Homo sapiens: one gene and its partners. The protein of the gene in region 3 purifies or fractionates together with the protein of the main gene of each other region. This does not show direct contact. Each region holds a gene or a part of one and is shown on either strand. Other genes may lie near its edges. The genes, in order: POLR2E, POLR3H and POLR3C.

Region 1 (3,746 bases), on a different chromosome or scaffold from region 3:
GCAGCCGTGAGAGCTGTGGGGGCCGGATTCTGGCAGGGCAGGGGCGTTTGTCCTGCAGGGATGGGGGTCGCTGTGTGTCCGCCTCTAGGGGCTAGGAAAGGGGGAGAGTGGTCACACGACAGGGGCAGATCCAGTATGCCCAGGACAGCACAACGCCCACCGAACGTGACGGGGTGCGGGAGGCCTGGCAGGAGGCGGCCCAGGCCGCAGTGCAGAGGCCGGACGGCTCCCTTGTGCCCAGCGGTCACACAGGCGTGGGCAGTAGCTCTGACCTCAAAGGAACCGTGCCAGCGTCAGACCAGGCCAAGCCCCACCCCTGGGCTGAGTGTGAAGTGGGGCGGCCTGCAGGACAGCAGCTCGCCATGACCAGAGTCCAGGGGAAGCTGGGAGGCTCTCGCCATGGGCAGAGGCTGTCCCGCTCCTGAGACTCCGGCCAGTCCCTCCCAAGGTGCCCACTCAGGGAAGGGTTGGCCTGAAGCTGTGCCTCCTCTCTCAGCTCTGGGGTCTCTGGGCAGGTTTCTAAACCCTCTTCTGGAAAGTCCCGCCGCACAACTGCCCTGCAGGTGAACGTCTCCTGCTTCTAAGGTGGGTCAGCGGCGGAGAGACGCACGCCCCGCGTACCAGGACTCTCCCGTCCAGGCGCACAGCCCCAAGAGCTGCAGCCTACGGTCGGGTGGGGTCTGGGGGTCTGGGGGTGTCCTGGGAGCGCCTGGTGGCCCAGCTGGGCTGGTGCTAGGAGGGTCTTGCTGCCGGACAAAGCAAGAACAGCCCTGCACACCGACGGAGGGGACGACACCCCTGCCTCTGACCCCACCTCAGTGCCTGTCCCTCGGCCGTCTCACCTGTCAGGCGGTAGCTACTGCACCAGCCGGTAGGTGATGTACCTGCCAGCCGTCTCACTGGGCCGGATGATCTTCACCACCTGCAGAGACAGAGAGCAGGGGCTGCGAATGCTTGAGGGGTCTCACTGCAGTCACCAGACAGCAGGCGGGCAGCACACGGGCTGGGGATGGCCGGCAGGGGTCCGAGATGGCTGACCCTGGGCTGTGGGACCCGCTCCCTGGGAACCTGGGTCACGCTCTTCTCTGGGCCCAGTGGCCCTGGCTTTAAGAGGGGGATATTGGGGGTGTGGTCTCGAGGTCCCCTCCAGGCCCTGGATCAAGGGGGAGGGGCTGTCGGGGAGGGACAGAAGCCCCCTTCTCCGAGTGGTCAGCTCAGAGCAGCCCCAGGGCCCCTTCTCCCCACAGGGCTCACCTGCCCACGCTTTATCCCAAAGTAGCGCGCCACAGGGTCCCCCGCCTGGATCCTGGGCAGCTGGTTCTCTCGGAGCTTACTGCGAAGCACCGTCAGGAAAATGCCAGACAGGGCCGTTGGGGGGGCAGGGGTGTGTGTGGGGGGGGAACGCGGAAGTCTCGAGGGACAGGGAGGGGCGGGGCCGGTGGGGCTGGAAAGGATACTATCGGGCCAGCAGCTCTGTCACCTCCTCCTTGGTCATGACGACGTGCTCAGGGACTAGCTGCCGAGAGAGGAAGCCACCAGGCATCACCAAGGGCTGGTGAGACCCCACGTGGCTCCCAGGTGCCACCACAGCCCCTGCGCCTTCAGACGGACAAGAGCCCTGAACCCCACCCCGATCCCCGGCACTCAGGGAGCCCACCCACCCCACCCTGGCTCCACAGGCGGGGGACGGAGTCACAGCTCCTGGGGCTTCTGAGGCAGACGGGCTGGGCACAGCCACCTCCTGCTGGGACTCCTCCTGTCCCAGCACTAGGGTCCCTCCACACTCCCAGCAGTCCCGATTCTACAGGCTGGGGTGGGCCCGGGATCTGCATTTTTTTTTTTTTTTTTTTTTTTGAGATGGAGTCTTGCTCTGTCTCCCAGGCTGGAGTGCAGTGGCACAATCTCGGCTCCCCGAGTAGCTGGGACTACAGGCGCTCGCCACCACGCCTGGCTAATTTTTTTGTATTTTTAGTAGAGACGGGGTTTCACCGTGTTAGCCAGGATGGTCTGGAACTCCTGACCTCGTGATCCGCCCGCCTCGGCCTCCCAAAGTGCTGGGATTACATGTGTGAGCCACCGCGCCCGGCCGGGATCTGCATTTCTAGGAAGCTCCCGGGTTCGGCTGCTGCAGGCCCAGGGCCACCCTTTGAGAACCCTGTCCTCCATGCACTAATAGGAACACCTGCCCTGGGCCCCAGATCCCACATCTTCCTGGCCACCCACAAACGCTGCATCTCTGCCGGCCCCACGCAGGCGGGATTCCGCGGCGCGCGCCCACCTCGTGCTCCGTGATGTTGATGAGCAGCTCCTGCTGCAGAAACTGCTCCAGGATGTACTTGGGGGCCATGTCGACCAGGGACTGGAAGAGAGCGGCTCTAAGGCACGGCCCGGAGGGGCCCAGACAACCCCAACCCCATTTCCTGCCTCAAGCTACCTGGGGCTTACTCGTGTGCCCCAACAACACACCCACGTCGTGAATCAGAAAACCCCACCGCCAGCCCAGGAGCCTTCAACAGCCCGCCCCTCCCCAGCCTCTCTGCTCATCGAGAGCCTCATCCAGCAGTGAAGTGGCCGTGGAAACTCGGATGTGTTTCCATCCATCACACGCTTCCAGGGGCGGCCCTCAGAGCTGGCAGGGCGACCTCTTCCCCATACAGGGGTGCTGCTCTGTGTGGCTGCGTGAACCCCACAGCTGGTGGGCCAGGGACTAAACTGCTCTGCTGACTGCCCGTCACAGCACAGCAGCCTGGCTCCAGAGTGTCCGACAGACAGACGGGGAACACGGATAGGCCCCTGGAGGACCCCGTGCCGGGCCTCCTCTGCAAGTCCCCCTGGACATCAGCTCAGGATAAAGAACCTCCGGCTCCTGGAATCTGCACCAGGCCGAGGGCTGGAGCCCACAGGAGCTGGCGAGAGGCACAGTGCCCTCCGCCCTGACGCCCCTCCTGAGAGCTGGGGGAGGACGGCGGCTGCCTGGGGTGGGGCCCATGGACGCGGTGGGAGGGAGGCGGTCGGGGCTTGCCGGACATCCCGGCCACATCCTCCAGGGCACCCTGGCTGGCCTGGCCCAAAGCCCAAGGCACGTGGGCCGCCTGTGGGTACTGCTTGCGGGAGGAGGCTGGGGAGGGGGAGAGGCTGGCGGGGTGGGGCAGGGGTGCCCACCTGCTTGGCGGAGGGTGTCATGCCCTGCTGCACCACGATGAGAGCCCGTGTGATGTTCTCCTCCTGCATGCGCTGGCAGTACACCTTGATGGTCTTGATGCCCACCTTGGGCTCCTCTGCAGACAGAGAGTGTGCTGGCCTGCACGAGCCTGGGCCCTCGTGGCCCTCGCCCACCCAGAGCCCAGAGCACCCAGGTTCCAGCCCCATTCCACACAGGTGTCTCTCCTGCTCGGGCCTCGGCTTCCGCGTTTGCAAAACGAGGCCTGAGTTGCAGGATCCCAGGACAGGGGAAGAGAGGGCTGAAACCTCTCATTCACCCGGAGACAGGGACAGGGGGCTGACACCCCTCAGTCACCCAGAGACCAGGGAGAAGCAGAGACCTTCGACTCTGAGAGGCTCCCACCCTGGGCAGTTCTGGGGAGGCGGGTGACTCAGCACCAACCTCTCCAACAAGCAGACCTCACACCCCAGGACGCTCTCTTTAAGAAGCATCACCTGAGGCCGGGTGCGGTGGCTCACACCTGTAATCCTAGCACTTTGGGAGGCTGAGGCAGGTGGATCACTTGAAGTCAACAGTTCTAAAC
Region 2 (3,746 bases), on a different chromosome or scaffold from region 3:
AAACAGAGACTCAGGACAGATGAGGGTGGGGGCTAATAAAAGCCAGCAGTAGAAATCTTCCAATTGAATAGACAGAATTTCCTCCAACTTTTTTTTTTTGAGACGGGGTCTCTCTCTGTCACCCAGCTGGAGTGCAGCGGCGTGTTCTTGGCCTCCTGGGTTCAAGCGATTCTCCTGCCTCCACCTCCACCTCCCAGGGAGCTGAGATTACAGGTGTGTACACCACCAGACCTGGCTAATTTTTTTTTTTTTTTTTTGAGATACAGTCTCACCCTGTCGCCTAGGGTGGAGTGCAGTGGCACAATCTCAGCTCACTGCAACCTCTGCCTCCTGGGTTCAAGCGATTCTCCTGCCTCAGCCTCCGGAGTAGCTGGGATTACAGACATGTGCCACCACACCCAAATAATTTTTTTTTTTTTTTTTTTGAGACGGAGTTTCACTCTGTTGCCCAGGCTGGAGTGCAGTGGTGCGATCTCGGTTCACTGCAAGCTCCGCCTCCTGGGTTCACTCCATTCTCCTGCCTCAGCCTCCTGAGTAGCTGGGACTACAGGTGCCTGCCGCCACACCTGGCTAATGTTTTGTATTTTTAGTAGAGACAGGGTTTCACCGTGTTAGCCAGGAGATCTCCTGACCTCATGATCTGCCCGCCTCGGCCTCCCAAAGTGCTGGGATTACAGAAGTGAGCCATCGTGCCTGGCTTTTTTTGTAGTTTTAGTAGAGATGAGGTTTTGCCATGTTGGCCAGGCTGGTCTAGAACTCCTGACCTCAGGTGATGCACCCGCCTTTACCTCCCAAAGTTCTGGGATTACAAGCGTGAGCCACCACACCCGGCCGCAACTTGACTTTTTTCTCCAAGTTTTTCTGGAAGTTCTAGTACCTATTACCACTTGTCTCCTGGACAACCAAGGCCCCTGTCCAAATGCGGAGACTGGGCTCAGCTCGGCATCCTTCTCTGTAAACAGAGGCCCTCGTGGTTGTTTTCACACTGCAATCTTATTTCTCTGCTAATGAAAATGCTCCTAGTCTGTACAAAGACAGCCTGTTTCTTCGGCCTCTCGGCGTACCATGGTAACATCCATGCGAACTAATTAATTCCCTGAATGGCTGGACACAGACACTAGGCAGTCTCACAGCATACTCTGGAATGTTCTGGCATCTCTGTGCTGAGAGGCTGACCAGTATGGACTACAGCAGGGCTTATCCAACATGAGCTCGTGTGACAACCACCTGGTACCTTGTTAAAACAGTCTTTGGGGCTGGGGGCAGTGGCTCACGCCTGTAATCCCAGCACTTTGGGAGGCCGAGGTGGGCGGATCACGAGGTCAGGCGTTCGAGACCATTCTGACCAACATGGTGAAACCCCCTCTACTAAAAATACAAAAATTAGCCAGGCGTGGTGGCACGTGCCTATAATCCCAGCTACTCGGGAGGCTGAGGCAGGAGAATTGCTTGATGCTGGGAGGTGGAGGTTGCAGTGAGCCAAGATCACACTTCTGCACTCCAACCTGGGCAACAGAGCAAGACTCTGTCTTAAAAAAAAAAAAAAGTATTTGGACCCATCCCCCAAGATTCTGACTCAGGCGGAGGGAGGCCTGGGGCAGGCTGAGAATTGCGCTCTGAGTGCCCAAGGGATGGCAGGCTTGGCGCCTGCGCTCTGGGAGCCTGAACCGTCTCAATGGGCCTCTCACCATCTCCTATACACTGGTTTGGTCCAGACATGAGAATGAAGAATGCCCCTCTCCTGGGGCTCATCACCTCCCTTGACTGGTGGTCCTGGCTCCTCTCAGGGTGGTCCTCTCTCTACTCCTCCCTCCTTCCAGGATCTGGTGATCACCTTCCATTCCTGGATGCACACCCTTTTGCAATGTGACTGCAGTTTCTCCCACCCAGAGGTGAAGTCTATTTCTCCATCCCCTCACCCTAGCCAACGGGATGGAAGCAGAGGCTTGAGAAGTACTTACGCACTGAACTTTGGAACCTTAAAACCGCCAAGCCCAGCCTGGCCTACTGAAAGATGAGACCATGTGGGGCAGAGATGGGCCAGCCCAGCCCAGGCCCCCAGTAACCAACCAGTCTGCCAACCTTCAGAATGTGAGACCGTCCTAGATTGTCCAGCCCCAGGCCAGCCAGATGAGAGGAAAACCACCCAACTGACCGACAGAATAGGGAGAAACAATCCACGCTGATAAGTCACTGAGTGCTCGTTAGGTGCCAAGGCTCTGTCCTAAGAGCTTTCATGTATTAACTCCTTAATCCTCACAATGGTCTTAGAATATAAAATCTATCCTAAACTGCAGTTGACATCCTGAACTGCAACTGACAGATAAGGAAGCAGAGGCACAGAGCAATGACATATTCAGCCAGGACACACAGCTAGTAAGAAGCAGAGCTCAGCTTTTAATCTTGAGGCCACACTCTTACCTACTGTGTCCTACTATCCAAGTCCCCCACCCCCAGCCAGCCTGCTGATCCCCCTTCCGTCTGCTCTCCACAGGCAGCGGGAAGCCCGAGGAATGGACAAGGTGCAGGGCTCAGTAGCAATGAGACCAAAAGGGCACAGACACAGAGCTATGAAGTCAGAGCTGAAGAGGCCTTGAAAACCAACTAGTCCACATCCCAGGCCTCACAGATGAGGGAACAGAGGCCCAGAGAAGAGAAGTCTGCCGCTGTCACCGGGTCAATTCCTGGCCGATTCAGGATGAGGCCCCACGTCTCCCAGCCTCCAGGACTCCCACCACCCTCTGGCCATCTCTTTGACTTTAGCCTTTTAAAATTTTTTCATATTTTATTTATGTATTTAAAGACAGGGTCTTGCTATGTTGCCCAGGCTGGCCTTGAACTCTGTGGCTCAAGAGATCCTTCCGCCCTCAGCCTTACAGGCACGCACCACTGAACCTGGATTTGGCTTGACCTTTGGCTACAGAAAACTGAGCCCCAAGAAGCCCAATGCCCCAGGGACAGAAGATACCCACCTTTGGTGTGTGATGCGCCATCCCCAGGGAATACATAGGCATCCTCCAGTTTGGTGATATCAAACAGACAAATGCAGAGTCCCACGTTGTACACGACCTGCATGCATACAAACACAGACACACAAGTACACATGGATACAGAGTGACCACAGGCCCAGCTCCCAGGCAATCTGAGCCCCTCACAACCACAAGCAAGCCATGATTATCTCCTTTTTTAGGTGAAAATGAGTTTGTGGAGGGGACCAGGGTAAGGAACCTCAGAAGGATGCAGAGCTCTGGAAGGAGCAGGGCCTCGGGTGACAAAACAGGTCCAGGTTCCAAGGCCAGCTCCACCACCCACTGTGTGACTGCCAAGAGGGTCACTTCACCTCTCTGAGCCTCGGTCTCCCCATCTGCAAATGTGAAATACCAGGCTGCAGAGTTATAAAATAAAGAGAGATAACAGATGTGAAGCCCCTAGCCTTGTACCTGGCTCGTGTATTGGAAACCATCATCATCAAGGATCTTTGTTATTACTAGTGAGGACCAGTGACAGGAATGCTGCCTAAACGTGCACTCTCCGACATCCCAAAGCCAATGCCAGAGCTCACAGTTTAGTGAGCGTCACAGCCACAGCTAAACCCCACTGTGCTCACAACATCTCAGACACACAGACGCAGCCACAGGGACTGCAGCTGGCAGAGGGACACAAGACCTAGGCCCCAAGAATGTGCAGAAATCCCATGCCCTCACCCCACACCACTGTGGTTCAAACGACTGGCTACTCAGTGTCTC
Region 3 (3,746 bases):
GTGCCACAGTTCCTACATTTGTAAGCAAAGGCTTTAGGGAGGCTGGTTAATTTGCATCGGTAGGAATTAAACAGTAGGTTATTTTAAGGTAAAGAGCAGTATTACATGAGATCCATAGGAGTCCAGTGAAAAAATGGGGAAAAGTATGCCAAGGTGTGGTTATATTGGTGGCTTACATAATGATCAAATTACTTCACTGGGGATAGGAAGTATGTGATCCCAAACCCAACCAGTGTCCCCCTTACCTCTCCTGTACGACGGACTCCAGAGTGGCTGTGGCTAGGGATGCTAATGCCTTATGGAGGTCTTTATGTAGAGAATTAAGGTCACTCAGTAATGTTTTGGCCTAGTTATTGTGATCTGAGTTTTATTCCTAAGTTTCTAATTTATAATTAAATTTTAAATGCTATTTTGTTTTTCATGTTATAATTTATGGTTTCAGTCATGGTACATAAATATTCCAAAACTTTAATACAAGTGTTTAAGTAAGGGTTTTGCTTAACTAAAATTTGGTTGATTAAAAGTCCTTTTTCCTTTTCTTTTTTGAGACAGGGTCACCCAGGTTGGAGTACAGTGGCATGATCTCAGCTTACTGCAACGTCTGTCTCCTGGGCTCTAGCGATCCTCCCACCTCAGCCTCCTGAGGAGCTGGACTACAAGCATGCATCGTTACAGCTGGCTAGTTTTTGTATTTTTGGTAGAGATGGGGTTTTGCCATGTTGCTTAGCTGATCTTGAACTCCTGGGTTCATGCAATTCACCTGCCTCAGCCTCCCAAAGTCCACCATGCCTGGCCTCTTTTTACTTCATCATCAATGCAGTTCACTGAAAATTCATAGAAAAATTTATTTAACAATTACTTCAATTTTCTAATTTATTTAGTATAATAAACATTACCAAATCTTTCTTTCCTAAGGCACCATTCTGATTTATAGGTCAGGCTGCCTGACTCTAAGGAAATAACTGGTAAGGATACTGATGACATACATTCCTCCACCACTGTCGCCAGACTTTCCAACAAACTCTAGCTATTAAGAAAAAGAGAGAGTGTTAACTGAACGGAAAGTCCAGTGATTCTGTTTCCAATGGAACAAATCTGACCAAAAGTCTGCAGCAGGTAGCCCTCCTATCAAATGATGTGGAGAAATTGTCTGGGCTGGCTAGGTAGAGAATAACTCTGCAGGAGGATGACACTAGGTATCAGTGCAGAAATAAATTATCAACAGTACAGGCTAAAGAAAAAAGAAAAAAAGCAAAAACAGACTTACTGGATCATCTGCCAGCAGAGTGAGATACTGATCAAGAACTTGCTTAGAGATGTTATAGCCAACAGGTAGGGATCTGAAGATCTATGGAGCAAAGGACACTTAAAATGGGTTTGGGAACTTAGAACTCCTGACCTTACTGAAATAAAGATGTTTTAGGCCGGGCACAGTGGCTAAGGCCTGTAATCCGAACACTTTGGGAGGCTGAGGCAGGTGGATCACTTTGGGTCAAGAGTTGGAGACCAGCCTGACCAATATGGTGAAACCCCGTCTCTAGTAAAAATACAGAATTAGCTGGACGTGGTGGCGCATGCCTGTAATCCCAGCTATTTGGGAGGCTGAGGCAGGAGAACTGCTTGAACCTGGGAGGCAGAGGTTGCAGTGAGCCGAGATTGCGCCAATGGACTCCAGCCTGGGCTACAAGGGCGAAACTCCGTCTCAAAAAAAAAAAAAAAAAAGTTTTAATTTTAGTTACCACAAAACTGTCCAAAAATATTCACAGCAGGATTGTTTGTAAGAGTAAAAAACTAGAAACACCCAAATGACCAGTACCGAGTACACTAAAATAAAATATAGCACGGCCATTAAGTGGAATATGATACAGTCATTATGAAGAGTGAGACAAATCTACAGAAACTAACATGAAAGGAAGTTTTACATACACTGTCATATAAAAAATCAAGTTATAGAACAGTATGACTAGGTTGGGTGTGGTGGATCACGACTTTGTAATGCCAGCACTTTGAGAGGCTGAGGTGGGAGGATCACTTGATGTCAGGAGTTCGAGACCAGCCTGGCCAACACAGTGAAACCCTGTCTCTACTAAAAATACAAAAATTAGCCTGGCGTGGTGGCATGTGCCTGTGATCTCAGCTACTCGGAAGGATGAGCAGGAGAATGCCTTGAACCCAGGAGGCGGAGGTTGCAGTGAGCTGAGATTGCGCTACTGCACTCCAGCCTGGGTGAAAGAGTACAAGACTCTGTCACAAAAAAACAAAAACAAACAAACAAAACCCAACCAAAAAGCCATATGAATAGTCCCATTTTGGGGTTAAAAAATACATATACCCACATATATGTTAGAGTATGCAAGGTCTGAATAAAGATATATACCAAACTTTTTTTTTTTTTTTGAGACAGAGTCTCACTCTGTTTCCCAGGCTAGAGTGCAGTGGTGCGATCTCAGCTCACTGCAACCTCCCATTCCCGGGTTCAAGCGATTCTCCTGCCTCAGCCTCCCAAGTAGCTGGGATTACAGGCGCCCATCACCATGCCTGGCTAATTTCTGTAATTTTAGTAGAGATGAGGTTTCACCATGTTGGACTATGCTGGTCTTGAACTCCTCAGGTGATCTGCCTGCCTCGGCCACCCAAAGTACTGGGATTACGGGTGTGAGCTGCTGCGTCCGGCCTTTTTTTTTTTTTTTTTTTTTTGAAATAGGGTTTTGCTCTGTTGTTTAAGCTGGAGTGCAGTGGCATGATCATAGTTGACTGCAACCTCAACTCTTGGGCTCAAGCAATCCTCCTGCCTCAGCCTCTCGAATAGCTGTGACTACAGGCATATGGCACCACACCCAACTAATTTTTTAAAAAAATTTTTTGTAGAGACGGGGGTCTTGTCATGTTGCCCAGGTTGGTCTTCAACTCCTGGCCTCAAGGGATCCTTCTGCCTCAACCTCCCAAAGTTCTAGGATTACAAGTGTGAGTCACTGCACCTGGCCATAGAACTTTAAAATAAACAATATAAAAATATAGGAATATTTAAACACAGTCATGCACCATATAACATTTTAGTCAACAACGGACCGTGTGCAGCTGTGGTCCCATATTATACTGGAGCTGAAAAATTCCTACTGCTTTGTGATGTCATAGCTGTTGTAACATCATAGCACAATGCCGTTGTGAAACACATTACTCACATGTGTGGTGAGGCTGGAGTGCAGTGGTATGATCTTGGCTCACTGCAACCTCTGCCTCCTGGGTTCAAGCAATTCTCCTGCCTCAGCCTCCCGAGTAGCTGGGACCACAGGCGCATGCCACCATGCCCGGCTAATTTTTTTTTTTTTTTTTGTATTTTAGTAGATGGGTTTCACCATGTTGCCCAGGCTGGTCTCAAACGCCTGAGCTCAGGCAACCCACCAGCCTGGGCCTCCCAAAGTGCTAGGATTACAGGCGTGAGCCACCCCGCTCAGCCTGTTACTGGTTTTTAATAAATACAGTGTAGCCTGAGCGTGTAGACCATCACATTCACATTAATCTGCCATTCATTCACTAACTCCCACAGGGCAACTTTTAGTCCTGAAAGCTCCATTCATGTTAAGTGCACTAAACAGGTGTGGTTTTTAATTTTTCATACCATATTTTTACTGTACCTTTTCTGTGATTAGATGTTTAGATACACAGATGCTACTGCGTTACAACTGCCTACAGTATTCAGTACAGTAACATGCTGTACAGGTTTACAGCCTAGAAGCCATAGGCTA

What was found.
Region 1: the proteins of POLR3C (region 3) and POLR2E purify together in Homo sapiens (affinity purification with mass spectrometry; 5 studies listed by BioGRID and IntAct, with this or other methods). This does not show direct contact.
Region 2: the proteins of POLR3C (region 3) and POLR3H purify together in Homo sapiens (affinity purification with mass spectrometry; 5 studies listed by BioGRID and IntAct, with this or other methods). This does not show direct contact.

What each region holds. Positions count from the first base shown.
Region 1 is NC_000019.10:1,088,630-1,092,375, forward strand, and holds part of POLR2E (DNA-directed RNA polymerases I, II, and III subunit RPABC1), read right to left. Parts: intron 3,279-3,746; coding exon 3,163-3,278; intron 2,360-3,162; coding exon 2,279-2,359; intron 1,517-2,278; coding exon 1,458-1,516; intron 1,337-1,457; coding exon of another isoform or gene 1,334-1,336; coding exon 1,255-1,333; intron 923-1,254; coding exon 857-922; 3' UTR 843-856; intron 92-842; 3' UTR 1-91. UniProt on the Homo sapiens protein: DNA-dependent RNA polymerase catalyzes the transcription of DNA into RNA using the four ribonucleoside triphosphates as substrates.
Region 2 is NC_000022.11:41,537,727-41,541,472, forward strand, and holds part of POLR3H (DNA-directed RNA polymerase III subunit RPC8), read right to left. Parts: intron 3,070-3,746; coding exon 2,973-3,069; intron 1-2,972.
Region 3 is NC_000001.11:145,834,096-145,837,841, reverse strand, and holds part of POLR3C (DNA-directed RNA polymerase III subunit RPC3), read right to left. Parts: intron 1,349-3,746; coding exon 1,268-1,348; intron 1,028-1,267; coding exon 976-1,027; intron 825-975; coding exon of another isoform or gene 822-824; exon of another isoform or gene 351-821; intron 307-350; coding exon 246-306; intron 1-245. UniProt on the Homo sapiens protein: DNA-dependent RNA polymerase catalyzes the transcription of DNA into RNA using the four ribonucleoside triphosphates as substrates.